2 separate regions of the Homo sapiens genome follow, and region 1 is linked to region 2. Evidence: fine-mapped expression QTL. A gene starts in region 2. The other region holds a variant in brackets. All regions are shown on one strand. Distances are from middle to middle. Region 1 overlaps LINC00842 (long intergenic non-protein coding RNA 842). Region 2 holds the start of GPRIN2 (G protein regulated inducer of neurite outgrowth 2).

Region 1 (15,055 bases), 150 kb after region 2:
TCTTGTGAATCTTCTTTTTTCTTTTCTAAGAGATGGGGTCTCGCTTTGTTGCCTAGGCTGGAGTAGGGTGGTGTGACGGTAACTCACTGCAGGCTTGAATTCCTGTCCTCAAGCGATCCTCCTGCCTCAGCCTCCGAAAGTGCTGGGATTACAGGTGGGAGCCACAGTGCTAGGCCTCTCATGAACCCTGTCTTCCAGAAATGTGTTGGACTCTCATCCATTAGTAAGCCATCTTTCTCTCTTTTTTTAATGCTTTTCCCTTATAGATTTACTCCATTTTAAATTTATAAGCTTAAATTTCAGTGATGATGTCTTAGGAAGAACAGGAGAGGAGGAACAAAGGAACAAACCACTTTAATGGGAAGCTGAAAGGACCCTTTTAAAAGTGTGCAGTGGGGAGAGCCTGGGCTTGGTCTCTGGTAAACCTGGTGAATGGTGGGTTAACACTCCCTCCCTCACTCGGTGTTGCTGGGAGGATAAGACAGAACTTGTGGCGAGCAGGTGTCCAATAGCTGCCTCTTGCTATGTGCAGCCAGTGCCACATCCAGGCTGAGTGCTGTGGGGAGTGTGGCTCATCCCGCTGGGGCCACCCCAGGCCTCGCTCACTGGAGACTCCAGAATCAGGGCTGACTGAGCAGCTTGTGGCACTGAAGAATGTTCTAGGAAAGGAGGTGTGTCCTCCTTGGAAGGGGAAGCTTCATGGTGGGTGAGCTGAGGGTAAGGGGTGGGTGAGGGCCATTTGAAGAGTCACCTCCCCTACATTCTTTTATCTTTTGGAGCCTCCATCCACGCCACTTCAAACAATGAACACACACATCCAAGTCAGTAAGTGCACTTTGTGTATATCTATATAAGTGATGCGCAATTACTATATAACAGTTCACTAGCTGACCTGACATTATTCACATATCGTAGGCATGTGACTAATTGTAGGTGTGTAATGAAGTGTTCACATCTTATTACATATTTAATTCCTAAGGCATTTCTACAGTTTTATTTGAGAATTTTGGAACTGCCAGTATGTTTTTCATGTTTCAAACCTTTTCACAGGCCCTGAAAAAACCCAAAGGCCTTATATTCTGGGACCGTAATGGACAAAACAGCCCTGGGAAGTATGCTTGAGAGGATGGCGAAGGCTGGGTTTGCTGAGGGAGGTGCCAGCTAAGGTGCTGGGCACACCAGAGGCAAGGGATCTGGACCACAACTGTCAGTTTGACGAACACACTAATGGTGGAGTGACCCCCACCAGGAGTGGCCAGCAAGCAGGGTCCAACAGGAAAGACATCTGGGAGGCCAGCAGGTAGAATCCTGGCTCTGCCACCTTCGTGCTATGTGATATCAGCCAAGTTACTTGCCCTCTCTGATTCTCAAATGCTCGGAGGCCCTTTGACCTCTAGAGTCTATGGGACCTGAGTGACCACAGGGCTCTTGTTTGTTGGTGGCTGCCTCTTTATTTAACTCCTTTTCTCAAATACGGTCTATGGGCTTTGCTTAAAGTGAGGTGTCCTGTGCACACTCTTCTCCATGACTTTGAGGCCGTGAGAAGCCCCGCCCTGCAGAAGGACTGAGGAAACTAGTGCTGGAGTCTCCTTTCTTGTATCAGTGAAGGAAGGGGAGAGAGGAGATAAAGTGCTCAGGTTACAGAATGTGAGGATCATGCCCCTTTTTTCCAACTGAAGACATTCCTAGGCATTTTATCTCCCCTGTTGCAACTCCTAAATCACAAAAACCTTATGCATCCAGTTTGGCTGACATCCACCTGCAATGGGAGTGAGTGAGATTGAGCCACTCCTCAGGTGAATGGAAAATTAAGGCCAACCAAGGCCCACCCCATGCCCCACTGTGGGGTCTAAAAGGAGCAGGCACTGGCCTGCTTTCTTTTTCCCTAAAGAAAGCTCTTTGGGGACCCAGCAGAAACAGCAGAGGTGGGGATGCGAGCTTCCGCCTGCATTTGTTCCAGGGTGGGCCAGTGAGGATTTGGGAGGAATGGTGTGGAAAGGCCCTGCCCAAGAAGGCTGGATGCTGGCTGGGGAATGCCCAGGGTGCCAGCTCCCTACCCTGGGGAAAGGCCAGGCTGGCATATGCCGGAGCCAGGGTCCAAGGTCACAGAGAGGCCACACCTGGGCACCCCTCCCAGCAAGGGAAGGTCCAAGCTGGGAATTACTTCTCTTTGGAAAGTGAGGGGAGTGGTACAGAAATATTGCTATTGTTGCTGTTGTCCTGTCACTTCTGGCATTGGAAATGGTGTTGAGCTTCTACGTGACGGGCATTGGAGGTCAAACCTGAAACAGGTGAGGCCCATCCCTTTACTAGGCTCACGTTCTAGGTAGGGAGGAGGCAGGTACCTCCTCCACCTAAGAAACAACAAGAGATAGAGAATGCAGTAACTGTCCTAAAGAGAAAAACCAGGGGATGGAGAGAGAATAATGGTTGTCAGGACGGGTCAGACTTTAGGATGGTAAATGAGGAGTGGTCTCTGAGAAGGGATGAGGCAGAGGAAGTGAGGCTCAGGGAAGTGAAGCACTTGCCCAAGGCAGCCTGCTGGTCATGGCAGAGCTGGCAAGCTCATTCCCTCCTCATTATGTCAACCTTCTGGGACCAGAGTCTGGGCAGGGCAGAAACTACTGCACCAGGGGTGCGTGGCTCCAGCAGAGAGAGACAAAGTGCCCCATGCAATCCAGAAACTGAGCCCTCTGGGCTCAATCTTCAAAGGAATGACTCTCAGAGTTGTGTCCCCTGCCTTTTCTTCACCATGGAACTTTTCCCAGCTCCACTCTGGTGGGCTTGGGGACAGGACCTGCCCTCTGCAAAGTGATGACCAAGGATAAGTCGCATTTTCAAGGAGACCTTGGAGAACACCACCCTCTTATTGTGCAAAAGAGGAAACAGGTCCAGAGAGGGTGAGCCATTTTTTCAGCATCACACAGCTGACCTGGAGCAGAGTTTCCTAAAAGCTCCCTCGGTGCTCTTTCCCCTGCTGTGGCTAGACCCCTCCACAGGAACTTAACAGGAACCCAAAGGAACGAGTCACTCATGGCAGAATCACTAATGTGATGGAGGGCAGGAGTGAGAGACGGCATAATGTCAATGCTGGCACACTCCTGGCACACGGGAAGCTGTCCATGAGTGGTTGCTTCCCACCACTTCCATCGCCCAGTTTGGGACATGTCTGAGATCCAGTGCTGAGCCCAGGGTCTAGCATGTCATGGGAGCTCAGGAGTTCCTAATTGACTACATGAATGCTAAGGTGTGGGATGTGCTCCTTCCTGCTTTCTCATTCTCAAAGAATACTCTTATACACCTGGTTGTGGGGAGGGTATATAGGCAATCAACTTTTGCGTACTCACTTCCATTGTAGGATCATGCATGCATGTGGACGTGCGCACACACACAAACACAAATGCACACACACACACACACCTGCCTTCTCAAACTTGTGGGACCAGAAAGGATGCTGCAAGGCCTAAGATAATTGCTGGTCTCTTTTTTCTTATGCTTTAGCAGGAAAAACACACTCTTCCAAGCACACAGCTGCAGAGGTCTTCCTGAGCATCATGTAGTCTTTAATCATGTTGTGGAGGACAGGATGATCTGTGCCTCAGGAATCAGCTTAGTTGATAACTCAATTCCATGGCTGGGCCCCATTTGTAAGCAGTCATGGCACATCCCATGGAAACCTATAATCTAATTATGGCTGCTGCATCAGTCCTCATCCTTCATGCTGTCATCCACAGCTCCTCACCACCCATCTTACTTGGATGAAGGCTCTCTGAGGTATGAAGGGCAAACATCTGATCCTTCCACTGGAGGCCTAGGCTGCTTTCCTTATTCTCACAGCAGCCACAAGTATTGGGATCACAGCTTGAAAGGCTCTTCTTGGTCCGTGGGACTGGGGCAGTCAGGACAATTTCAGGCCTTTAGTGAATGGAGGCATTTCATTACTTCAGATCTCACCTAGTCTTGGAGGTCTTGGGCATTTTTAGAACTCACCCAGCCAGGCTGCCACTCAGGGTGAGGCTACCTGGATTGTTTATTGGTAACGAATGTTTGAATCAGAGACTGTTAGAAAACCAAAAATGAAGATTTTAACAATACAAAAAGCAGAACCTAAAGAGGTTTAATCAGTAGGATTGGTACCAGTTCTTTGTATGTCTGATAGAATTTAGCTGTGAATCCATCTAGTCCAGGGCTTTTTGTTGTTGTCGTTGGTAGGTTTTTTATTATTCGTTTAATTTCAGAGCTTGATATTGGTCTAGTCAGGGTATCAGTCTCTTCCTGATTCAATCTTGGGAGATTGTATGTTCCCAGGAATTTATCCATTTCCTCTAGATTTTCTAATTTGTGTGCATAGAATTACTCACAGTATTTTCTGAGGATCTTTTGTATTTCTGCATGTATCAGTACGCCATACTGTTCAAGCACATGGACTTTGCAGTTGGACATTCCTGAGTACAAATTCTGCTTCTGGCAGAGCATTTAGGTGACTTAGTCTGCTGACAAAGCTGCAGTATCTTCATCTGCAAATGAAGATGAATTGTAATATCTTTGTCATTTCTGACAGTACTTATTTGGAAATTCTTTTTTCTTTGTTAATCTAGCTAGTGGTCTCTCAGTCTTGTTTATTTTTTTGAAAATCAACTTTTGGTTTCATTTATCTTTTGTATGGATTTTTGCATCTCAATTTCATTAAGTTCTTCTTTAATTTTAGTTATTTATTTTCTTCTGCTAGCTTTGGGGTTGGTTTGCTCTTTTTCTCTAGTTCTTCTAGGTGCAAAGTTAGACTGTTAATTTGAGATTGTTTTAACTTCTTGGTGAAGGCATTTAACGTTATAAACTTTCCTCTTAACACTGCTTTGGCTGTATCCCAGAGACTTTGTTAAGTTGTATCTCCATTTTCATTACTTTCAAAGATTTTTTTATTTCTGCCTTAATTTTGATTTTCACCTAGGAGTTAATCAGGAAAAAGTTGTTTAATATCCATGTATTTGTGTAGTTTTGAGAGATCTTCTTGATATTAGTTTCTATTTTTATCGCACTGTGGTCCAAGAGTGTGTTTGGTATAATTTCAATTTTTTAAAATTTATTGAGACTTGCTTTATGACTCAGCGTATGGTTGATCTGAGAATATGTTCTGTGTACAGATAGGAAGAATGTATATTCTGTGGTTGTTGGGTGGAGTGAATGTCTATGAGGCCCTTGTAGATAAAATAATAGCTGAAATTGGAAAAAGAGGTTTAACCAGCTTTACTCATTTAAAATGCAAATGCGCTATTAGATAAGGGCCACATCACTTGGCATCAGGCCATAAGACAAGATGTGTCTGGATTATCCTGGGATTAATACTCATTTCCAAACTTCTAGGACTATTGAGAGTTGGTTTTTTTTTCTAGAAATCTCTGACGGACTACATTTGTTCCATAGTTCAGCCTCATCATCTTATGAACTATTTAGATAAGGGATAGAAAGTATCTTTTGAATTCATGTCAGCACCAATAGATTGGTGGTGGCTGCTTTAAAAACTGGGCCTAGAAGGATTCTGAATTCTTAACTGGGCTTAGAGAGAAAGAATGCCATGTTCAAAGAAGAAAGTTATCAATGGCTGCAGGAGGGGTGAGGTGGCCCATGTGTCACATGACTTGCTATCTTTGCACTGGGCAACCCTAACCTCTGAGAGGGTCCTTGTTGAATAAGATAAGTAGGTCCAGCCCTCAAGTTGTTATCAGTATAGCAGAGATGGTGAGCCACGAAGTGCTGCCAGATCACTGTATTGTGTTCTGGTCATGGCAGGTGCATGTATCAGTATGCCATACTGTTCAAGCACATGGACTTTGCAGTTGGCCATTCCTGAGTACAAATTCTGCTTCTGACAGAGCATTTAGGTGACTTAGTCTGCTGACTAAGCTGCAGTATCTTCATCTGCAAATGAAGATAATACCCACCTCACAGGGTAACTGGGGTCATTAAATGATATCAGATTTCAAAGCATTAGATGCTCACCTTGTAGTAATCATTATTACTATAATTACTATTGGTGTGGAAACACAGACACGCCTCTAAACTGTCCTGGGTACAGAGAAGGCTCTACAGACAGGCCCTGTTTTAAATTGCAAGTGATACTCAGGCAGTCTTCAGTAGACAAAGGCAGAGGCCATTCAGTGCAGGGGAGGACATTCTGTCCCCTGGTTAGGAAACCTGAACTATGGAATAGAAAAAAACTTAGACTCAATATTCAGAACAACTTTCCTGAAATAAAGGAAGACTTGAATTTTCTGACCGAAGGGTAAATTGATTTAGAGAAGTCAATGCTGAGATGACAGATCCTAACAAAATGAATGTTTGCCTTCAAAGAAAAGAATCCTAGGAGTATCCAGTAGAAAACCATCTCTCCAAAAACCAATCAAGACAACAACAAAAATAAAAACAACTACCCCAAACAATCACATGAAAACTCAAACCAAGAGAAACACTTGCAGAATGTCAGAATAAGGACTTCTGAAAATCCTTCCTTAACAACAATGAGAGCACTGGCAAAAATGTCAAAATTAACATTTTCAGAGTCCTGGAAATTAACCAAAGGCTTTCAGCAATCCAAGTTAGATTTATTCAAGAAACACAGCTGAATCTCAGTAAGAATAGCAAATTTTGTGGTGTTTTAACTTGCCTTATTCGTAGTCTTCTTTTCCAAGCTCTATGATAGACTTGAACATAAATGTTCTCAGCTAGGCATGGTGGCTCACTCCTATAATCCTAGCACTTTGGGAGGCTGAAATGGGAGGATTGCTTAAGTCCATGAGTTTGAGACCAGTCTGGACAACACAGAGACAACCTCTGTCTTACACACACACACACACACACACACACACACACACACAATTAACATTCTCACAACCATGACAGCTGTGAAAACCAGCAGCCTGGTAGCCACTGGGGAGGACAGAATAGGTTTAGAGCTCTCCAAAAATCCCATCCTCAGAAAGTTGTTACTATTTGATCTGTCTGACAGCTCCCTGGAAAAGGCACATTCTCAGGGATTGTCTTTGCTTAACATGGTTTGGAGCTTAGTCTGTGTGAACAGCCCTATCCTGAGGGAATCTGTCAAAAACAATCAGCAAAAATTGTTTGACATTGCAA[C/A]TGCCTGAGATGGCAGTACCAGTTGGGGCTAATAAGAGGCTGACCAAAACAGTTACAAGGAAAAACTGGGGAATGAGGTATTCATAGAGGCTTTGGAAAAGCTCTGACATATTCTTAAGAACCTAGAAGGCCATGTGCACGTGCAGGGTTGTACACATGTCCAAGACAGATCTAACTAGAGCTTAACTTTTGTTTGGCTTTGAGGCTCTGTGCAAGCAGGAAGTAAACTCTGAGGCAGAGTTGTCAGCTGCTTGCTGAAGCATCGAAGGCATGGCTCAACACAAACAAAGCTTCCCAGCAAAGGTAGGTAGATTTAGTTGTGCAAGGAATTTAAAGAAATCTCTGTCCAAAAATTAATGGACAACTAAACTGAGGAAAGACTTCGGTGGCTACACATGACAAAAAGTATACATTAAAACTTAGTCCAGGAAATTCACTAAACAGAGAAACAGCAGCATCGGCAACAACAACAAACAGAAGCAACAACAAATTGTGAAGAGGGGTGAGGTCTGATTTTTGGAGACACCACATTATTTTATTTAAAACATTCAGTTTTTAAGAAAAAAATATGAGAAATGCAAAGAAACAAAATGTGTGACCTATTCACAGGGAAAAAGCTGCCATTAGAAACTTTTTCTTGAGGAAGCCCAGACATTGGACTTACTATCAAAGATTTTAGAACAAGTCTTAAAAACATGTTTAAACAACTAAAGGAAAGCATGTTTAAAGAATTTTAAAAAGCATGAAAATGATGTCTTACCAAATACAGCATATCAATAAAGAGATAGAAAATTATATAAAAAAGGGAAAAAAATAAAATTCTGGGTTGAAAGTGCAACTGAAATAAAAAATTATTAACCAGAGGGGCTTAACAGCCAATTTGAGCAGGCAGAAAAAAGATTCAGTAAGTTGAATAAGGGTCAATTGAGATTATACAATCCAGGGAACAGAAAGTCAAAAGAATGAAGAAAAATGAACAGAGCCTCAGAGAGCATACCAATATGTATATAATGAGAATCCCAAAAGAAGAGGAGATAAAGGGGCAGAAAGAATATTTGAAGAAATAATTGCCATAAACTTCCCAAATTTGATGAAGAACATTAATTTACATGCTCAAGAAATTCAACGAACTACAAGTGGTATAAAAACAAAGAAATCCATACCTAGATACATCAGAGTCAAACTATCAAAAGCCAATGACAAAAAGAGAATCTCGAAAGCTACAAAAGAAAAATAACTCAGCATATACACTCTAGCTTCAAATTCCTCAATAAGATTAACAACTGACTTTTTATCAAAACCATTCAGGCAAGAAGGCAATGGGATAACATATTAAAAGTATTGTAAGAAAATGACTGTCAACCAAGAATTCTATATCTAGCAAAGGTATCTTTGAAAAAAAAGAAGAAATGCCCAGATAAATGAAAAATGAGAGAGTTCATCATGAGTAGATCTTCCCTACAAGAAATACTAAAAGGAGTCTCTCAGGCTGAAATGAAAGGACACTAGATGGTAACTTCATCCACACAAAGAAATAAAGAGCACTGCAGGGTAATTACATAATTAAAAAGACAGTATAATGTATTTTTAATTGTAATTCTTTTCTTATCCTATCTGATTTAAAAATAGCTACATAAATGAGTAATTATAAAACTGGGTTGTTGGGCTTATAATGTATAAAGATGTAATTTGTACGATAATATTAACACAAAGGAAGGGGGCAGGAAATGGACCTATATTGAAGCAATCTTTAAATATATTGTTGAAATTAAGTTGGATTGATATGGATTAGATTGTTTTATGATAAAATGTTATAATCCCCAGGGCAAGAATAAGAAAATAACTAAAAATATATGGTAAAACAAACAAAAGAATTAAAATGATATGCTAGAAAATATCAATTGAATTCAAAAGAAGACAGTAATGAGGGAAAAGAAAAACAAAAAAGATGTAGGACATATAAAAATAGCAAAATGGAAGGTGTAGAGCCTATCTTTTCAGTAAATCATATTAAATGTAAATAGAGTAAACATACCAATCAAAATGCAGAGGTTGTGATTTTAAAAAATGAATCAACTGTTATCTATAAGAGACATACTTTACATTCAAAGACACAAATAGGTTGAAAGTAATAGGATGGAAAAAGATAATCCATGAAAGTAGTAACCAAAGGGGAGCTGGAGTGGCTAGCTATACTAACAGTAGACCAAATAGACTCTTAAGACAAAAATTATTACAAGAGACAAAGAAAAACATTTTATAATTGTAAAAGTTTCAATCTATTAAGAAGACATGGCAATTAAGAATATATATGCACTTAATAGCAGAGATCCAAATACATGAAGCAAAAACTGAAGTGAGAAATAGAAAATTCAACAATTATAGTTGGAGACATCATTACTCCACTTTCAACAACGGATAGAACAACTAGGCAGAAGATCCACAAGGATATAGAAGATCTGAAAAAAACAGTAAACCCACTAGAGCTGGTAGTTACCCACAGAACACTCCACCACCATCAACAGAATAGACATTCTTTATATGTGTATATGGAATGTTCTCAAGAATAAATCTTGTCATGAGAAGAATAGTGGCCCCCAAAGATATCCATGCCCTAATCCCTGGAACCACGTTACATTACATGACAAAAGGGGCTTTGCAGATATGATTAAGGGTATAAACCTTGAGATGCGGAGATTACCCTGGATTGTTTGGGTGGGCCCAATCAAAATACATGAGTTCTTAAAAGTGGAGACACTTTCCTAACCATGGTAGGGAGATGAAATGGAAGGAGGAGGAGACAATTGAGGTGTGAGAAAGGTTTAAGTGACTACTAAACTGATGGACTTGATCCACCATTGCTGCCTTTGAGGATGGAGGAAGGGGACTATTAATAAGGGAATGTGGGTAGCTTCTAGAAGCTGGGAACAGTTCAGCTGACAGCCAGCAAGGAAGTGGGAATCTCAGTCCTACAACTTGCAGGAACTGAATTCTGCCAACAACTCGAATGAACAAGGGAACTCTCCGAGAATTTCCACAAAGGAATACAACCACACAGATTCCTATTTTTAGCCCAATAAGACATGTCAGACTTCTGATCTTCAGAACCACAAGATAATAAATTTGTGTTAGGTGCAAATTTGTGGTAATTTGTTATGGCAGCAATAGAAAACACATACATGTATATTCATCCATAAAACAAAATGCAGTAAATTTAAAATAATTGAAATCATATAGAATATGTTCTCTAACAATAGCAGAGTGAAATTCAAAACCAAAAACAGAAAGAAATTTCGGACATCCACAAATATGTAGAAATTAAATGACACACTCCAAAATAATCAATGGGTCAAAGAAGAAATCACAATGAAAATTAGAAAATTATTTGAAATGAATGAAAATAAAATCACAACATATCAAAGTGTATGGGGTGCAGTCAAAGCAATACTTAGGGAGACTTTTATAGCTGTAAATGCCTATATTAAAAAGAAGAAAGATCTCCATAACCCAGACTTCCACCTTAAGAAAGTAGAAAAGGAAGCGCAAACTAAGCCCAAAGCAAGCAGAAAGAAGAAAATAATAAAGATTGTAGTGGAAATAAATAAAACAGGGAATAGAAAAAACACTAAGGGAAAAAACAAGAGTAATTGCTTCACTGAAAAGAGCAATAAAATTGGTAAACCTTTAGCTTGACTGAGAAGAAAAAAGTTATGTGCCCTATTTCATTCCCTATACATTAAATTATTAAATTATTAATGTATAGGGAATTAAATTATTAAATTAATAATGTTTAGAGAATGAAATAGGGCACACCACTACCACCTCATAGAAATAAAAGGATTATAAAGGAATACTATAAACAATTGTAAGACAGCAAAATTTTAACTTAGGTGAAATGGAAAAATTCCTAGAAAGACAGGAACTACAAAAACTGAATCAAGAACAAATAGAAAATTTCAATAGACCTTAGTAAGTAAAGGGATTAAATTAGTAATTAAGAAACTCACCATGCACAAAAAAGCTCAGTACCAAATGGTTTCGCTGATTAGTTTTCCCAAACATTTAAAAAAGATTATTGTTAATTCTTCACAATCTTTTCCAAAAATAGAAGAAACAAACTTCAACTCATTCTATGATGTCATTATTCTCATGATACCAAAACAAAAGACATTCTAAGAGAACACAGCAATATCTTTCATGAATATTAATACAAAAATTATCAACAAAATACTAGCACACTAAACCTAGAAACATATAAAAATGATTATGTATCACAATCAAGTGAAATTTATTTCAGGAATGCAAAGTTGGTTTAACATAATAAAATAAATCTAATTAATACACCACATTAATAAAATGAAGGATAAAATCCACCTAATCTCAATAGATGCAGAAAAAACATTTGACAAAATCAATATCCTTTCATGATAAAACACTCATAAAACTAGAAATAGAGGAGAATTTATGAAATCTAATAAAGAACATCTATGAAAAACCACAACTGACATCATCCCAAAGGGTGAAAGAGTGGATACTTTCCTTCTAAGACCAGTAAGAAGGAAAGGAAGTCCATGCTCACCACTTCTATTCAACATTGTATTAGAGATCTGAGCTAGGGCAATTATGCAAATAAGTATGTAAATTTAAAAAATAGCATCCAAATTGAAAAGAAAGATGTAAACTATATTTACAGATGACATAATCTAAGGAATTCACAAAATAACTATTACGACTAATAAATGAGTTCAGCAAGATTGCAGATACAAGAACAATATGAAAAACAATTGTATTTCTACACACTAGCAATGAATAATCTGAATATAAGATTAAGAACAGAATTCCATTTACAATGGCATCAGACAAAATAAAAGGCTTATGAATAAATTCAACAAATAAGTCTAAGACTTGTACGTACTGAAAACAATAAAACACCACTGAAGGAAATTAAAGAAGACCTAAATAAATGAAAAAACATCCTATGTTCATGGATTTGGAAGACTTAATATTGTTAAGATGTCAATGTTTCCCAAATTGGTCTACAGATTCAATGCAATCTTGATTGAAAGATTATGTGCCTTTTTCTCAGAAGTTCACATGCAGATGCAAGAGACCCAGAATAGCCAACATGATCTTGAAAGAGAGAGGACTACACTTCCTGATTTAAAAACTTAATACAGGTTGGGTGCAGTGGCTCACACCTGTAATGCCAGCACTTTGGGAGGCTAAGTTGGGAGGATTGCTTGAGCCCAGAGTTTGAGATTAACCTGGGCAACATAATGAGACCCCATCTCTACAAAAAATAAAAAAAAGATTAGCTGGGTGTGGTGGTGTGTGCCTGTAGTCCCAGCAACTTGGGAGGCCGAGGTGGGAGGATCACTTGAGCCCAAGAGGTCTATGATGCAGTGACCTATGATCAAGGCACTGCACTCCAGCCTGGGCAACAGAACAAGACCCTATCTCAAAAACAAAATGAAACAAAACAACCCCCCCAAACCCCAAAGAAAACCAAACTTACTACCAACATCTAGTAATCAAGATAGCCCAATACTAGAAATGTAATAGAATTGAAAATCCAATATTAAACCTTCACATTTATGGTTAACTGATTTTTGACAAAGGTGTCAAGACAATTCAAGAGGATTAAAAAAAAGCCTTAACAAATGATGCTGGGACAACCGGATTTCCACATGTGAAGGAATGAAGCTGGACACTTACCTTACATCATGTACAAAACTTAACTCAAAATGGACCAAAGTTCTAAATGTAAGAGCTAAAACTATAAAACCATAGAGGCAAATGTTCATGACCTTGGATTGGTAAAAGGATTATTAGATATAATACCAAAAGCAGAAGTGACCAAACAAAAAAAAATAAGTGGGGCATTATCAAAATTGACAGCTTTTGTGCTTCAAAGGACACCATCAAGAAAGTCAAAAAGCAACCCACAGAATGGGAAGAAGTATTTGCAAATCATATATATATACATATATATATATATATATATATAAAATTTGATAAGCCACTTGTATCCAGAATATATGAAGAACTCTAACAATTCAGCAATAAAAGACAATAACCTAATTAAAACATGGGCAAATGATTTGAATAAATATTTGTCCAAAGAAGATATACTCATGATCAAAAAGCACCTGAAAAGATGCTTGACATTATTAGTCATTAGGAAAGTGCAAATAGAACCGCAATAAGATACAACTACACACCCATTAGGATGGCTTTCATAGAAAAAGACAGGCAATAAGAAGTGTTGGTGAAGATGCAGAGAAATTGAAAACCCCGTTCATTGCTGGTGTGAACATAAGATGGTGCTGTCACTTTGGAAAACAGTTTGGTAGTTCCTCAAAAAGTTGGGTGTAGTATTATCATATGACCAAGGAATTCCACTCCTAGATACATACCCAAGAGAACTGAAAACCTATATCCACACAATATCTTGTACAAGTGTTTTCAAAGCAGCATTATTCATAACACCCGAAAAGTAGAAACAATCCAAATGTCCGTCAACGAATGGGTAAACAACTGTGGTATTCCTTTCCAGTGGTAAGAGACAGAATTGATTAGGGAAATGAGGCAGATTCACTAAACTCCACTGAAGGATGGACCTGAGCCAACAGTTCACAGGAAAATGACACAAAAGGCCTTTAAATATATAAAAAGCATCATGTTTAAAGCTTCACTTGTCATCATGGGAAGTCAAACTAAAACACTGAATTACTATACTTTGTCCACCAGATGAGTGAGGATCAAATTTTGAAGATGTACTGTCTTAGTAAGAGGTTTAGGAAATTGGTATTTTCCTTCTGTACTGATGAGAATGGGGACTTCTTGACAAAATCTATCTTAAGTACAATTCCACATGCCCTTTGATCTAAACACAATATTTTAGGAGTCTATCCTATGATGATACAAAGTAATATAAGAATGTTTATTGCAATAACTTCCAATAACAAGCTACCGAAACCAGCCTAAACAACCAAAAACAGATTAAATGAGTAGAGATTGGTTAAATAAATTATGGTACATTCACAATGAAATCTTACACTGCTGTTAAAAAGTATTAATTTTTCCTAAAGATATATTAAATACATATAATTAAAAATAGAAAGAAGACTAGCATTAGACAAAAGCTAGAGAAGTAGGGAAAGTACATATATTTTTGCGTATTCCTAGAGAATTTCTAGAAGCATATACAGGAAACTTAACAATCGTGAGAGAGTTTGGAGAGGACTTTGGCTGGGGGTTCTGGAGTGGTGCAGAGATTTATTTTCACCACTTACTCTTTTGTACTACTTGATTTTCTAGAAGCATATGCAAGATGAATTTCTAGAAGCATATACAAGAAACTTAATAACTGTGAGAGAGTTTGGAGAGGACTTTGGCTGGGGTCTCTAGAGTGGTGCAGAGATTTATTTTCACCATTTACTCTTTTGTACTACTTGATTTTTATCAAGTGCGTGCATTACTTTTTTGCCTTTTAGGTTTTTATTTTATGTATGTTTAGACTTTTAAATTTTCAAATAATCATAGATTGACAAGAATTTGTGAAGGGGTCCCAATATCCTTCACCCAGTTTCTCCACTGTTTACGTTTTACATTCTACAAAACAATATCAAAACAAAGAAACTGACATTAGCACAATGTGTGTTCTTCTATTACATTGTATCACATGTGTAGATTCCTGTAACCACCAAGACACAAAACTATCCCATCATCCCAAGATCTCTCCTGCTACCTCTTTGTAGTCACACTTCCCCACCACCGCCTCTAACGCCTGCCAACCACTAATCTGTTTTCACTGTTTATAATTTTGCCCCTGGAAGAATGTTATACAAGTGAAATCGTACAGTATGTGACTTTTTGAGATTGGTTTTTTTCACTTAGCCTAATGCTCTTGAGATCCATCCAT
Region 2 (15,055 bases):
ATTCTGGTTCAAATCCTCATGCATCCTTATAACAAACCCATTTTTTCCCCCAAACAAGTTGCAGGTGGTCTGAGACCAAAGCAGACATCCCCCTTCCATGTTGCCTCTGTAACCCTCCCACGGTGACCAGCGTATCACTAAGGACACTTTTGGTAGCAAAGGATGGAAATATAATGCAAATTGGTTTTTAAAAAAGGAAATGTATTGTCTTCCTTAATTGAGATGTCAAGGGATGAGACTAGCCTTAGTCCTCACTGAGGTCAAGGCTCCCGGGATGTTCTCGGGAACTTGCTTCTGCACATCCTCACTTTGTCCTTCTCTGGGCGGCTCCAGTATCCGGCTTCATGTAAGATGGTGGCTTCATCGCCACATTCCCTTGGGGAATAGAATGAGTTTCTTTCTCCAGATTCCCAGATAAAGTATTTATCATTGGATCTAAGTGGGGTACACACTTATCCTGAACAATCTCTGGCCAGGAAACTGATACAGTGATTGGCTGAGGCCTAGCATACACCCCTCCTCTAAGACCCACATGAGCGTAGAGGAGGTAGAGTGTGAGTAATATCTTTGTGGAATATATGTTGAACTGCTGGAAGAGAGACTTCAAATAAGATTGGCTTAAGCAAGATAGAAGTTTCTTTCTCCCTCACCTGCCTGCAGGTAAGCAGCCTGGGAGCCCAGGTTTTTTTTTCCCCATCTTGTTGCTTCTCTATCCCTAGGTATTGTGATGTGAGATGTTTCACCATCACCTCCACTGCCTAGCCAGTGGAAACGGAAAAGGCGGAAGAGGAGGGCTCGCCCCTCTGGTTAAAAGTGTCACCTCTCCCTACTTCAATGCTGCTGGTCAGTTACTTGGCCAAATATAGCTTCTAGGAAGTGAGGAAATACAGTATTTTTTTTCTGGATTTCCGTATCTCCAGATAAAAAACAAGAATTCTTTAAACATAGGAGATGAGTGTGATCGGGGGCAATTAGCAATCTCAGCCCCAGCCTGTCCCATTGGCCAGTCAAATTTCCATGTGTCCCCTCCCCAGGGGAGACAACCCTAAAGTTGCATCCAGTGCCTATGTCCAGCTCCAAGCCTGGGACCTGTGGAGGGACAGCCTGCACCATCAGATCTGATGTGGTTTTTGTTTTATTTTTGTTTTTTTAGACAAGTTCTCACTATGTTGCCCAGGCTGGTCTCGAACTCCCGGGCTCAAGCAATCCTCCCATCTTGGCCTCCCGAAGTGCTGGGTTTACAGGTGTGAGCCACCACACCAGGCTTCTGGATGCAGTTCTTTATGGTGTGTTGCCCCGGAACCCTTACATACATTGCCTGCCTCCTTACACCCAATATGCAACAGCCAGTAAAAATAAGATAAACATGGTGGGAAACCTCATCCAGAAGAGGGAAAAACACACCCACCAAATCCTGGTGGGCAGAAATTGTGAAGGCTCCCAGGGAGTGGAGCAGAGTCCTTGGATGACAGCGCCTCTCTCCAGGAGTATTCCCTGGGATAGACATCTTTGGACCTTGGTGGTCCCCTCTTTGTCCACTGCCTTCCATGGCACAACTAAAGGGCATCAAACGGTGTATCCCTCTTAGGGCTATACAGCTTAAACATTTTTTTTTAGAGAGAAGGTCTTGCTGTGTTGCCCAGGCTGGACTCGAGTGCCTGGGGCTCAGGCAATCCTCCCACTTCAGCCTTCAGAGCAGCAGGGACTACAGGCACATGCCACCACACTGGGCCTGGGCTGCATAGCTTTTGCAGCCCACTTTTTGCAGGTGCAGGTTTGGTGGGTAGGGGTCGGTTGATTTAAGGAGTCAAAAATGCAGACTTGTACCAGCCAGACTCATGGTTCTTTGGTAACACATGCCCCTTAAAATCTCAGTTGGCTTTCTGCCTATTTGTGGCTAGTTATCCTCTGGGGCAAGTACAGGTTGGGTATCCCTTATCTGAAATGCTCGGGGCCAGAGTGTTTCATATTTCAGATTTTGGAATATTTGCATTATCCTGGCTGAACATCCCTAATCTGAAAATCCAAAATCTGAAATGCTCCAATGAGCATCATGTGTGCTCAAGAAGTTTTGGATTTTAGAGCATTTTGGATTTCTGGGTTTTTGGTTTAGTGATGCTCAACCTCCTTTAGATTAGCAGTATTTAAGCCTAAAAATGGTGGCCTTTTATTTATCAGCCTGTATGTTATATCTATTCACCTCCCTCTCAACCTGAGACCAGCGAAAACACTCAACTTGGACTGGAAGGCAGCTTCCTTGATCTGGTCTTTGTGGCCGAGCGGCTGTCATTGTCAGGTTGAGAAACGTAATCAAGTGTTTGAGAAAGACTAGGGTCCATAGTCTCGTCTCCTGCTAATCCTGCTTCTTCAGAAAATTATTCTATATCTGCCTCAGTTTGTGGTACAGAAGCAATAGATTTTTCTCTTTATTTTTTTAAATAAATATAATTTTATTCTAAAGGAATATTATTATATGGCAACACTTTGAGAACCATAAAGGTGCCTTTGAAATGTTGTTAGAAAATCACTTAAATCATATTTTTTATTAATAAATTGATGCCATTTTCAGGCACAGTATTTTTTTGGGCAAGCACTGTACAGCATAATTCAAAATATACCCATTTACAGAATCCAATTAGGTATTTTTCTGCTCACAATTATATGATGGCTGATTTCTGCTCACAATTATATGATGGCGGATTTCTGCCTACATTATGATGTGATATGATATGATATGATATGATATGATATGATATGATATGATGGCTGATTTCTGCCTACATTATGATATATAACTGCTCTACAGAACATGAAACAGAATTTCATAACATCAGTTATATTTACACTCTACTTTAAAAATCTTTCAAGATATAAGAATCAAGCTATCAAATATGGAGTTTTTAACAAGCAATAGTTTTTTTTTTTAGGTCTGAAAACTTTTTAAACTGAGGTTATAGCCCATAGGCAAAGGGAGCTTCTTTCAGCACTGCTGTATTCTCTTCAGTATCTGCCTTCCTCGGGCTAGCTCTGTCCACGTTCTTCTGGGTCATGTAGGACTCTGTTGAGAGTGGCAAGAAGCATCCAGCAAACACCTGCATTCTGAAATTTCCAACTGTTTCCTTTAGAGCAAGAGCTGACTTTGCAAGGTATTGCAGGAATCAGTTGATCGACTGCTATGGCATGGCATAAACAGGGTTTCCAGATCATCATATTTATGTATAGCATTTAAAATATGTTTTCAGTTTTGTTACCAGCAACACAGCCCTTCTTGGTAATAATTAGTATACAGCCTTTACTAATAATTAGTATACAGCACTAATAATTAGTATACAGGCTTTCCTTCTGCAAGAGAGCACTCACCCCAAATAGTGACTGAAATAGACTGGAGGTTAATTTCTCTTTCATGGAAAACCTAGTTAGAGCTAGTCCAGGGCTGATAGGCAACCACAGTGTGTTGGGACACAGGCTCCTTCTCTTTTGTCACTCTGACATCCTTAGGGTTTTAGCTTCATCTGATTGATATAAACTGGCTTCACACCATGACTTCATTCCTACCAGGGGAGAGGGAAAGGGGCGAGGCACATTTCTTCTGAAGTGCATGACCGAGAAATTGCAAAAATTACTTCTGCTAACATCTCACTGCTGAGAACCTAATCTACAGCATGTTGGGTGCACGATGCCTGGGAAATGTGGTCATTATTCTGGGCAGTTATGTACTCAGTTAGAGGAATTCTATTACTATAGAAGGGGACAATAAGTATTGGGGGACAATTAGCAGTCTCTGTCTCGGGATGATCCCCCAAATGAAATGGGGGCTGGATTGTGGGGAGCTGAAAAAGCAACAGATGTCTACTACAATGCCTCTCCTCTGAGCACTCCAGCCCCTTCTATTCCCTTCAATCCTTGTGACCTAATTGTCCTTTGGGCATCTGTCTCAGGTCCCCTGAATCCCCCATCATGTAGGCTTTGGGGCCAAGGCACCTCTGATTTAGCCTATATTGTCAGCTTGCAGCTGATAATTATTATTAGGGACTCAGGAAAATGTCTGTGGAACTAAATTGAGGTAGTAATAGGCATTTCTGAATCAACTGCCTTCCATTCATTCATTCATTCATCCAGCCAGCCAGCCAGCCAGCAAACATCTATTATATGCTAAGTCCCAGGGAGTCAGTGTCTTTTTGTCAGACAAAAAGACAGCCTTTTCATTTATGGCTCTTTTGGCTAGAGGGGTCTCTTGTACCCTAGAGATATTTTGCTAGAAAAGCAGATGCTGTTTAACTGAATCAAAGCTCTCTCTTCCTTAGGCATTGATACATCCCAACTTAGCATTTCCTCAAAGCTTGCACAGAGGCTGTCCCCAGCGGTAATTTGTGCTTTGGGACAGCTCAGTATCAGGTTCCCTTAGTCTGGCAACAGTGTCTTGCCCTTTCCTTTGGGGAACCACTCTTCACTAGTCTCTGTGACCCACTGTCAGCCCTACTGCAGGGCCCCACCATTTTGGGAAGAGCAGTGACACAGGCTGGTCAATTGAAGAGCTCTCTCTCTGGTCCAGGATTGTCAAGTAGGGGCAGTAAGACTTGATTTGTGGGTTGTTTAGATCCAGAGATGTGAGGATGTAGATTTAAGGTTGCCAGCAACTTTCTTTCCCAAGAGGAGAGAGACTACGGTACCTCAGTACTACCCCCATCATTTCTTCTTGCTCTGCTATTACATAAAGAAGTCACCTCTTTCCTCCTATTGAACTCCTGAATCTCAGCCCATTGAGGACCTTATTGCCAGTAGCAATTCTGGCTCCTGTATCTCCTGTCCACTCCTTCTCAATGGGTACTTCTCCCTAGCAGTCAAATGTGCTCAGTTCGTTACAATGTGCAGTGGATACTTGTTTCTGGTCACTCAGGCTTCAACCTCCCTGCTGGGGAAAACTGTCTTGTGAGCAGTCTCGGTGGGGCAGTGGGTGATCCTAGAGAGGCATTGGGCCAGGTATTCCTCCAGGTATGTCGATCCAAGGGCAGAGGGCATGTGGCCATAGCTCGGCCAAACAAACTGCCACTCCACTGGGATTTTGAATCTTGAGCTGAGAGACACACCAAGGACCATGGACAGGAATCCTTTCTGTGGAGGTGGCACTGGGGAGCAAGTGGTTCCTCCTGTTGGGATCTGGAGTCACCTGGCTCCTGCCTTGAAGAACATGGCTGAAAGCATTAGCATCTGGAGATCCCTGCGATCTTTTGACATATCCCCTTTTGCTTAACTTTTTTTTTTTTTTTTTTTTTTTTTTTTTGAGACAGACTCCCGCTCTGTTGCTAAGCTGTAGTGCAGTGGCACAATTTCTGCTCACTGCAACCGCCACCTCTCGGCTACAAGCTATCCTCCTGCCTCAGCCTTGGGAACAGGGGGACTACAGAAACATGCCACCCTGCCCAGCTAATTTTTTTTTTTTTTTTTTTGAGATAGAGTCTTGCTCTGTTGTCTAGACTGGAGTGCAATGGCGGTGCGATCTTGACTCACTGCAACCTCCGCCTCCCAAGTTCAAGTGTCCTGATTCTCTTGTCTTAGCCTCTCAAGTAGCTGAGATTACAGGCAGACGCCACCATACCCGGCTCATTTTTTGTATTTTTAGTAGAGATGGGGTTTCACCATGTTGGCCAGGCTGGTCTTGAACTCCTGGTCTCAAGTGATCCACCTGCCTTGGCCTCCCAAAGTGCTGGGATTACAGGTGTGAGCCACTGCGCCTGGCCATCCCTTTTTGCTTAACTTAACCAGACTTGCTTTCTGTTGTTTGAAATAAAAGAAACCTACTACAGGATGCAGATAATAAAACAAGCAAGCAAACAAAAAAAAATAGCATTAAAAAAATGCCTCTCTTGACCCTACATTCCTTCCCAAGTGACACCTTTCTTCTCCCCTTTATGGCTGTGTTTAAAAGAGGCATCTGCACATGCACCATCTCTGGTTCTCTCCTCCAGCTCATCCCCCAACCCACGCCAGTGGCTTCTGCCTCTGCCACCTCACTGAAGGAGCTTGCTCCAAGTGCCCTGTGTCACCATGATGTCCCAGTTTCCCACTATCTTTTCTGGGTGCTCCTCCATCCTTTGTCACCTGGTGACTCACAAATGGGTCCTAAGCCCTCTCCTCACTCTACTCTTTCCCTGAAGACCTTATCCACCCCTGTGACTTCAGCAACCACCCCATGTCCATGACACCCAGACTTCTGAAAAACTCCGGTCCTTGGCTGGGCATGGTGGTTCACGCCTGTAGTCCCAGCATCTTGGGAGGCAGAGGGGGCGGATCACCTGAGATCAGGAGTTCGAGACCTGGCCAACATGGTGAAACCCCACCTCTAGCAAAAATACAAAAATTAGCTGGGCATGGTGATGGGCACCTGTAATCCCAGCTATTCAAGAGGCTGAGGCGGAAGAATCTCTTGAACCCGGGAGGCGGAGGTTGCAGTGAGTCGAGATCACGCTATTGCACTCTAGCCTGGGTGACAAGAGTGAAATTCCATCTCAAGGAACAAAAACAAACAGAAAAACCCCTCCAATCCTGTAATGTGCAACCCACCTGTCCACGTGGTGCCTCAAACATCCCAGTGTGCCCCCGCTGGACCCCTGAGTGCACCCCACACTCATTCCTCTTCTGTCAGGGTTCAGAGTCTCAGCAAATGGTAGTTGGCCCATGTGGTCCTCAGGCCTGAGCTGCTCTCTACCAAAGCAATCTACACATATCCATCCCTTCCTTCCCCCATGCAGTGCAGCTTGTACCTCCAGGACCTGACCCAGGAGGAGCTCAGTAAATATTTGATCAAGTGACTGATAGCAGCGATAACACTCCACGGGACACGTTCACAAACACCCTCTTCCCCCAGCCCTGTTAGGTAGGTATAATTACTACCACTCTGCAGATGAGGAAACTGATGCCCAGAGAGATGAACAGTTTTGCTTGGGTGTGGGGTTGCACAGCCAGTGAATATGTGGGGGAGTTGAGATTGGAATTTAAGTGTGACTCCCCATGCTGGGTTCTCCCTGGACAGCTGCCACAGCCAGGGGAGCCTCCTTGCCAGGGCATGAATGGAAGAAGGGGGCCAGTTGGACAAGGAGTGATGCCCTGGGGTGAGGGCCAGCCAGCTGTGTTCACAGGTAGATTGCATGGCAGACATCTCCTGACACCCAGCCCCAAGAAGGCTTCCTTGAAACACACAGTGAGGTTCTTGGTTCTTGAGATGTCCTGGGAGCTGAGAGCCCCAGGTTTGGGGCCTGGATCTGGCACCAACTCTCAGTGTAACCACAAGCAGTCCATCCCTTCTTGGGGCTCAGCTGACTTCACTAAAGAGGGAATATGAGTAAGATGCCTAAGATGTGGAAGCAGAGGTCCTAATTCCTGGACAGGGGCAGAAGTGGGTAGTGGCCTCGGCAAACAAATCCCCTATTTGCCTCCTTTAAGCAGGATCCCCCTACCAGGCAGTGTGTGATGGTGAGGCCCAAGCCTGGGGTCTGACGTCGACACCCCTGTGGGCATTTGGCCAAAGGCAGCCATCTGCCAGAATCTGAGAGCTGCTCTCAGACCTCGCTGGAGAGGGCTACCTGGGGCAGTCTGAGTCTCTCTGGGCAGACTGAGGTCCTTTGCTACCCAAACGGGGAGAATTAGAGATACTGTTGGCTCCTGGGCACTGGAAGGGAGGAACGCAGGCCTCTCAGCACAGGGCTGGGCCAACAAGTTGGGGGTCCCGGCACAGGGGACAACGGAGAAGTGCCAACATTGGGACCCAATTATGTGATACTGGGGCCCAGAGATAGTACAGGTGCCTCATACCACGTGGCCCTGGGTGGACAGCAGGAATCTATTGCGAGTGGCGGGAGGCCGGGGCTGCCTGTCCTGCGCCCTGAAGCTGGCCAGCGGTTGTGGAAACTGGGGGATATTGAGGGAACCGTAGGCCCAGGTCCTCAGCCTCATAGTGTGGAACCTGGCGATCCCAGGGCCTGGGCTGGCCCCCGGCGTCACGGGACCGGGAAGGCGCTGTGGTGCTGCGGGGAATTGCGGAGAAGAAGGCGGGCTCCAGTGGAGGTGGCTCATCCCCGCACGGTCACTGCCCTCGCCCGCTGTTGGGGTCCGCGGCTGGGAGACTGAAGGCCTCAAGTCGGGCTGGGTAGGGGCACGTGGGCAGGGAAAGGGGTGGTAGATTACCAGTCTTCAGGGGCGGGGCTGGAGATGCAACCCTAGGGAAGGAGTCTACCAGGCTGGGCTCTTGAGGGGCAATGGAGGGCTCCGGGGGCCAGGCCAGGCCAGGATCATGGAGTTCAAAGGACTGGAGTGAGGTTTGGGGTCCATGAGAGTGGAGCTCAGAGGATGGGACGGTGGGTCCAGGATTTGGGACCTGGGGCTGGAAAGTCCGAGGCTAGTGGAGACCAGGCCTGGTATCCCAGACGAAAGGGCCCTATAGGAAACGGGGTCTCGTGGGCGGGATCTGGAGCCAGAGAATTGTGAGAGGCGGAGCTAGGATGGAGAAGGCGAGAGGAAAGGGGTAGCCGCCGGCGCGGAGACCTCAATGCGGGGCGTGGTGCGGAGGGGGAACTGGAGCGAGGGGCACTGGAGCGAGGGGGTGGGGCTACGAGGAGGTGGACTTGAGGGGCTGGGTCTGGGGCCGGAGAATCGTGGGGAGCTGCGCCTATACACCCGGGACGGTGGGGTTGCGTCGGGGAAGTGGGAGTCTTGGGGGTTCGCTGGGCAGCCTGGAGAACAGGCGGTCGTGGTGCGGGCGGGGCCGAAAAGACCGAGGACAGTGGGGACCCGGCCTGAGGAGGGGTCGGGAAGGAGGGGTGGGGGCGCGCGGACGCAGATCCCGGGCCGCGGCGGGGCGGTGGCAGGCTCCAGAGTGGCACGGGCCCAGGTGAGCGAGGTCTCCGCCCGCCGCCCCTCCCGCCGCCCCGGTGCCAGCTGCCCCGCTGGCCCCTCCCTGTACCCGGCGCTTGCTCCGCGGGCCGGGCCGACGGCGGCGGGCGGCGTCTCGCGCCCAGGCCAGGTCGGCTCTGGCTCCATCTTGGGCCGCGGCACCTGGCACCTGTGGCGGCCGCAGGAGCAGCGCTTCCCCCGCCTGCGCGGCCCCGGCGGGCGAGAGGGTGAGAGGCTGGCTCCGCGCGCTCCCGTTGGGGCGGGGGGCGTGGTGGGCGGCACCTCCCCCTTGCTGAGCCTCAGAACCCACTCCTTCCCGCTGCCTGCGCTCAGACCCCCGGCATCCTGGCCCCTGCCCAGCGCCCAGAGCCCCCGGTGGCCGCATCGCACTCCCCGCGCTCCGCCTCTCATTGTCCTGTCCTGTCCCCTCTTCTACGTCTCCTCTGCCCATCCTCCCATTTTCACAAGTCTGTCCGGGACCCTGTCTCCTTCGGCCTCCACCCCTGCTGCCATCGCTCCTCCCTCTCCCCTTCTTCCTTTTCCCCTCCCTCAGCCTACTGCGCCGCCTACCCCGCCCCCAGCCTTGCTGCCCTTTGGCTTCTCCTGTCCCGCATCATTACCCCGGCCCACAGCCCCATTTGCCTGCAGTCGCTGCCTTTGCTCCTGAGAAGGTCTGTAGCCTCGTTTCGGGCCCGTATTGAGCCCCCTTCTCCCTAAGTCCGGGTGGGCTTTGTGCAGGAGGGGCGGGAGGGGAGCTATTCTGGGCGAGGCTGCGTGGTGCGGTGCTTTCAGGCCTTTGGCCCCGCAGCAGGGGCGGCCTGTGCTTGGCGTGCAGAGTGCAGCTGGGTAGACGCTGTTACTGCATACGGGCCTGTGTGTCCCAGGCTGGGGCATGAGTGCTTGTGAGCGTGCAGATAGGGACACACCGGCCGCCTAGGCTGCTTCTAGGCCGGGGCACCCTCTCCACCTAGGTGCCCCCCAGGGATTGTGGGCAAATCCTCCCCAGGGGAGGAAGCTCAGGGGCTGTTGGGCGCCTAGGCCTCTTCCTGGTGAGCAGAGCCTCATCCATGGGGCCACTGACCCCACAGTTACCCCAGAACCCTTTCCTGGCACAGCTTGTGACCCGGGGCATGTAGCCCTTAAGGCACGTTCATTGTGAAGGGCAGGTTTTGTCTCCTCCAAACCCTCCCTTTAGGAATGCTGCCTGCTGCTTTGCCCAGAGTTGGCCCTGAGTGTTCCTATCAGGCCCCGTTCACTCTGGGGTGGATTAAACCACCTCCTGGAGGGTGCTGTATCCCCACTGTGCAATGGGGGTTTGTGCTGTGTGCATTCCTGCCTGGTCCTTGAGAGGTAAGGTCCATATTTTAACATAGAACCAGTTTTCCTGCCTGATCATATAGGTTTGCTTTTCCTGTTTTGGTTTTGCCGGACACATAAGTCATCATCCAAATGCTTGCCACTTAACTAGAGGGGACTTGGGCCAGGCGCTGTGGCTCATGCCTGTAATCCCAGCACTTTGGGAGGCCGAGGCAGGTGGATCACCTAAGGTCAGGAGTTCGAGACCAGCCTGGCCAACATGGCGAAAACCCCATCTCTACTAAAAATACAAAAATTAGCTGGGCGCCGAGGTGCACGCCTGTAATCCCAGCTGCCGGGAGACTAAGACAAGAGAATCACGTGAACCCAGGAGGCAGAGGTTGCAGTGAGCCGAGACTGAGCCATTGTACTCGAGCCTGGGAGACAGAGCGAGACTCTGTCTCACAAACAAACGAACGAACAAAACCAAGAGGGGACTTAGATGGATGCCACAGTGTTGTCTGAGATGGAGCCCACTTGTGGTGGTCTTGGTAGTCCCCTGGGCATATCCCAAAGGCCTGGGCTCCTCTGCTGTGGCAGCATGGCGGGAGCTGGACTCTGTACGTTGACTCAAAGGTCTCTATGTTTGGGCTAGTCTGGAAGTGTCTGAGAACTGGGGGCTTTTACTCAAAATGACATTGGTTGATTGCTACATAGGTGGTTGATCTTCCAGTTGCTGACAGGTGGAACCTGAGGCAGCAGGACAGCCTGGCATTGGCCACGGGACATCGGCCACAACCATAGCAACTTCGGCATCAAATGGGGCAGGAGAGAGAACATTAAGGTATCGTTCAAAGAATACTAGAGGTCTTGGATACTTCTGTATGCCTGTTCTTTATCTTGTCCTAAAAGATCTTCCGAGGGTCCCTTTAGGGCAAAACCAGAACCTTCTGTGTTGTTATAAAGGCAGGGTGGGTGTGCCATTCTGGGCATTTAAAGTGCAGACTCTAGACTTGTATGCATGCGTAGCCTCCTAGGTTAACATTTAAAATAGGCTCTGGGAAACCTAGTTTGGTGATAGGGAGACTGGGGACACTGATGGTGACCTGGTCCTAGGATGGGATGAAGGTAGCGAGGATGGGAAGCTAGAGGAGGCTAACCTTTGGGGTGTCTTGATGGCTTCTGAAAAGGGCCTCTCTGGCCCCCAGTACTAATACTTGTTATACCATGAACTTAAGCTGCTCTTGATGGGAGGGGAAAGAGAAGATTATTGTTAACAAACACTATTGCAGACAGTGCACATGCTGTCACATTTGGTCTTCACAACAACCCTGCAGGGTGGGGATTTATTTCTGTTTTGCAGATTGAAGAAACTGAGGCTCAAAGAAGTTAGGGGTCCACCTGTGAGTACATGCACAGGAAGGGGAAGAGCCCCCATTGGAAGCAGAGCCCTGCCCCTTCCTCCTCACCCCTGGCTCCCTGGGAGGCCCCTCCTCTGGCCCAGTCCACAGCACTGTGACAGGCAGTGTGGAAGCCTCTTTCCCCCAGTACTCCCCTCAGAGCCCTTCCTTCCTTCTGAGCTGGGAAGGCCAGGTTGTAGTTAGCCAGGCCAATCCATTGGGGTTCTGAATTAGCCACTTTCAGCTGTGTGTTCTTTGACATTTCTGAGCTGCTCCAGGCCTCAGTTTTGTCACCTGCCACTTGTGGAGGGGGAATGGGGAAGGGAACCAATAGATACATAGCCCACACGGGGGTCTCTGGGTGATGACTAGCCCTGGGTGCTGGGCAGCCCTCTGGTGAGACAGGCACAGTGGGATGCTCATTGCTCATGGCTTCTCAGTGGGTCTTGGTGGGGGTCTGAGGACCTCATTCCACCTGTCTCCTCAGGGGCCAGAGGCTGCTGGCCTGGCTGTTTATGGCCCCCCTCCCTGGGAGGGTGGTGGGGTTTGGCCAGAGGCTGTGTGGATGTCCAGATGGGGCCTCCCTGGGGTCTTGGACCTGCAACTGAGTGGTTGTCTCCCTGCCAGGGGCTGGCAGTGACCACAGCTGTCCCAGTCAGGAGGAACACCTCCTGCCCTCCTCATTCTTGCAGCCTCAGGAGCTGCTAAGAAGCATGTTGGGCAGGTGGAGATCCACTCAGTGACTTGTTCCATGGCATGTCATGAGCACGATTGGCAGGGCCAGGCCAGATCAGTAAAAAGGGTGAGAGCTGCGAGGCATAGGCCTGCTCAGTGCTCGAAGGGGAGAGGAGCTCAGCTGCCCCACAGGTGTGTGCCCTTGGGGGTCACTGAGCCTCTCTGAGCTTATGGAATTCTCCTGTCTGTAGAATGGAGATAATGACTGTCTCAAGAGGTTGCTTGCACAGTTATATGAGACAATGTATGCAAAGGATGTGGCACGTGTCTGGCCCTTGGCGAGTGATCAGGCCCTGGCAGCTGTTATTATCATCGCTGTTACGGGCTTTATTGCCCTCCTTTGTTTGTATGTCCATCTTAGAGCTCATTGAGGGCAGGGTCTGGGTCAGATTTCTCTCTTGGCTACTCCTCCTCTTCCTGATCCTCCCAGGGACAAGTCTGGCTTCAGCCCCGTGAAGCAGCTGGGATGGGACATCCTTACCAGGCCGGGGCTGTGTTCAGAGCTGCACAGTCCTGTACGGTAGCCATTAGCCTCATGTGGCCAGTTAGATTCAAATAAAACTTAAACATTCAGTGTCTCAGTTGCAGTAGCCCCCTGCTGAGTGCTTGGTACCCACATGCCATTGGTGCCTACCTATTGGACAGCACAGGGTAGAATCTTTCCATCATCGCAGGAAGTTGTGCAGAGCTGGAGTCTCAGGGACTACAGCACCAGTATCATCCTCACTGTGGCTCAGCAGCCACCAGCCATCTCCTGAGTGCTGGGCTGCCAGGACATTTGTAATTACACAGAAACCGAGTCCCACAGCCCTTCCCGAATTTCCTCTCGGGTAGCCTTGCTCACCTGGTCGGGGAGGTTGTTGCCTGGAAGTCTTTATCAGCCTAGGCTGGGAGGGCAGGGCTGGGATTGCCCAAATGCAGCTGCTGCCTCCTGTCCCCACCCTGTTTCTCCCACCTCTCCTGCCTGGCAAGGAGTCCCAGAGTGATCTCCCTAATTCACTGCTGTGGCCAGGGCCGAGGTGGCCCAGACACTTTGACCCCACTGCTCCCCTCATATGCTCTGGACACATGGCCTCTTTCCTCCTGCCCACTCCGCTCTCCACCTGAACACCTTCTTGCTTCTCTCACTCCAGGCCTGACTTACGTGGCTGGTCCTCCAGGAAGCCTTTTCTCATCTCTCACCCTCCGTGAGCTCTCCTGCCTTGGTGGTGCCCTCCCTCAGACCCCATTTTTGGCACTCAGTGCCCTCCTCTGTGGGTGTGTTCTTGTATTTGCTTGTTCTCTTGGTCAGGCACACAGCAGATAATCCTCTGAGTGCCGACGACACATCAGGTCAGTGCTGGGTGTTGGACAGCCAGAGGGGAGCAGGCCACAGGCCAGGCTTTGCCAACTTCAGGCCTGTGGGGAGGCTGACAGTTGGCCAAACTGTTCCATGCAGGCCCAATGCTCAGTCAGGGATGAAGGCTGCCTGGCTGGAGGGTCGGGAAAGGGGCCCCAGGAAGAGATGCAGAAGTGGAAAGGGCCAGAACTGGCTCTAGGCTGCAGCTGCCAGGTCCAGGGTGGTCTTTATGGCTGGGGGAAGTGACAGCGATGGTACGGAGGGTGGGGGACAATGAGGATGCAGGTACACTGGGCAAGAGGGGATTAAATGTCAGGCAGGATAGGTCTGATTGATGGTACTGGGTGGGCATCTTATCTCACTGCTGCACCGTCCCCAGGGGTACAGAAAGGTCTGAATGAATCCCATGTTCCCTAGCCCTACAGCTGGGCACGCAGTAGGGGCTCAGGAGATGCTGTGGAATCAATGACCAGATGCTGAATGAGTCCCTCATGGAAAAAGCTGATGCATGGGGCCTCTCCTTGCCCCTGGAGCTAGAGGTAGGAGTCAGGGAACCCCAGAGACATGCCAGCTCAGCAAGGCTAGGCCAAGGAGGATGGGGGTGGTTGTGGAAGCCCAGGGTGATTCTCAGTGTCCTCTGGTCATTGCTCCCTCGTCCTGTGAACTTTCTCTGAGCTCCCACTCTGTACCAAGGAGACCCTGTCCACAGTGAGTTGGATACTGCCAGTCCCAGGAGGAAGTAGCCCAGTATTGGCCTGTCCAGCTGTGCCCGTTAAGAGGCCATAGTGCTTCCGTGCTGGTTGACCAAGAGCTGTTATCCCACAGCCCCACCCCCTAGGGCTGCAGTTTCACCCCCAAAGCCCCAGCAGATTTGGCTCTCTCCCTTCCCCTCCCACACAAACCAGCCAGTAAAGAGTTGAGAGCTGATAGAGTGGCGGCCTCCAGGACCCCACCCTAGGGCAGATTCTAACTGCTTGAGACTGATGATGAGATAATTTGCAGTGTCATCCTTGTGTCTAATGTGAGATGACCTTGATTTGAAGTGTCTGGTGTCTTGTCACTCACTGCCTTGCATATGGTTCTGACCAGTCAGGCAGGCTGGGACTGAAGGTGGCTCCCTGGTGAACCTAGCACTGTGGGAGTTCATAGTAGAATCGGCTTAGGTGCTGCCACCCAACTCAACTCCACTCCCTCCCTTTCTCTCTTCTGCAGGCAGCCATGAGCTCCAGCCGCCCCGAGCCGGGTCCCTGGGCACCCCTGAGCCCCCGCCTTCAGCCCCTGTCCCAGAGCTCTTCCAGCCTGCTGGGTGAAGGCCGGGAACAGAGGCCAGAGCTCCGCAAGACTGCCAGCAGCACCGTGTGGCAGGCCCAGCTGGGCGAGGCCAGCACCAGACCCCAGG

The links. PIP is the estimated chance that this variant, and not a neighbour inherited with it, causes the effect.
Region 1: its variant is the best candidate, but not a certain one, in a credible set for the expression of GPRIN2 in cerebellar hemisphere (GTEx, PIP 0.87).

The regions. Positions count from the first base shown.
Region 1 is chr10:46,399,898-46,414,952 of GRCh38, reverse strand. All of the region lies in intron 1 of LINC00842 (long intergenic non-protein coding RNA 842), which reads right to left. Among named protein-coding and RNA genes, the nearest start is that of LINC00842, 9.1 kb to the right of the region's middle. The variant C/A (reference allele first, on the strand shown) is at 7,132.
Region 2 is chr10:46,550,556-46,565,610 of GRCh38, reverse strand. GPRIN2 (G protein regulated inducer of neurite outgrowth 2) reads left to right here and starts at 8,953. Exons shown (of 3, transcript NM_001385282.1): 1 at 8,953-9,113; 2 at 10,916-11,026; 3 at 14,869-15,055. The coding sequence starts at 14,875. RefSeq lists enhancers at 7,506-8,211, 8,917-9,622.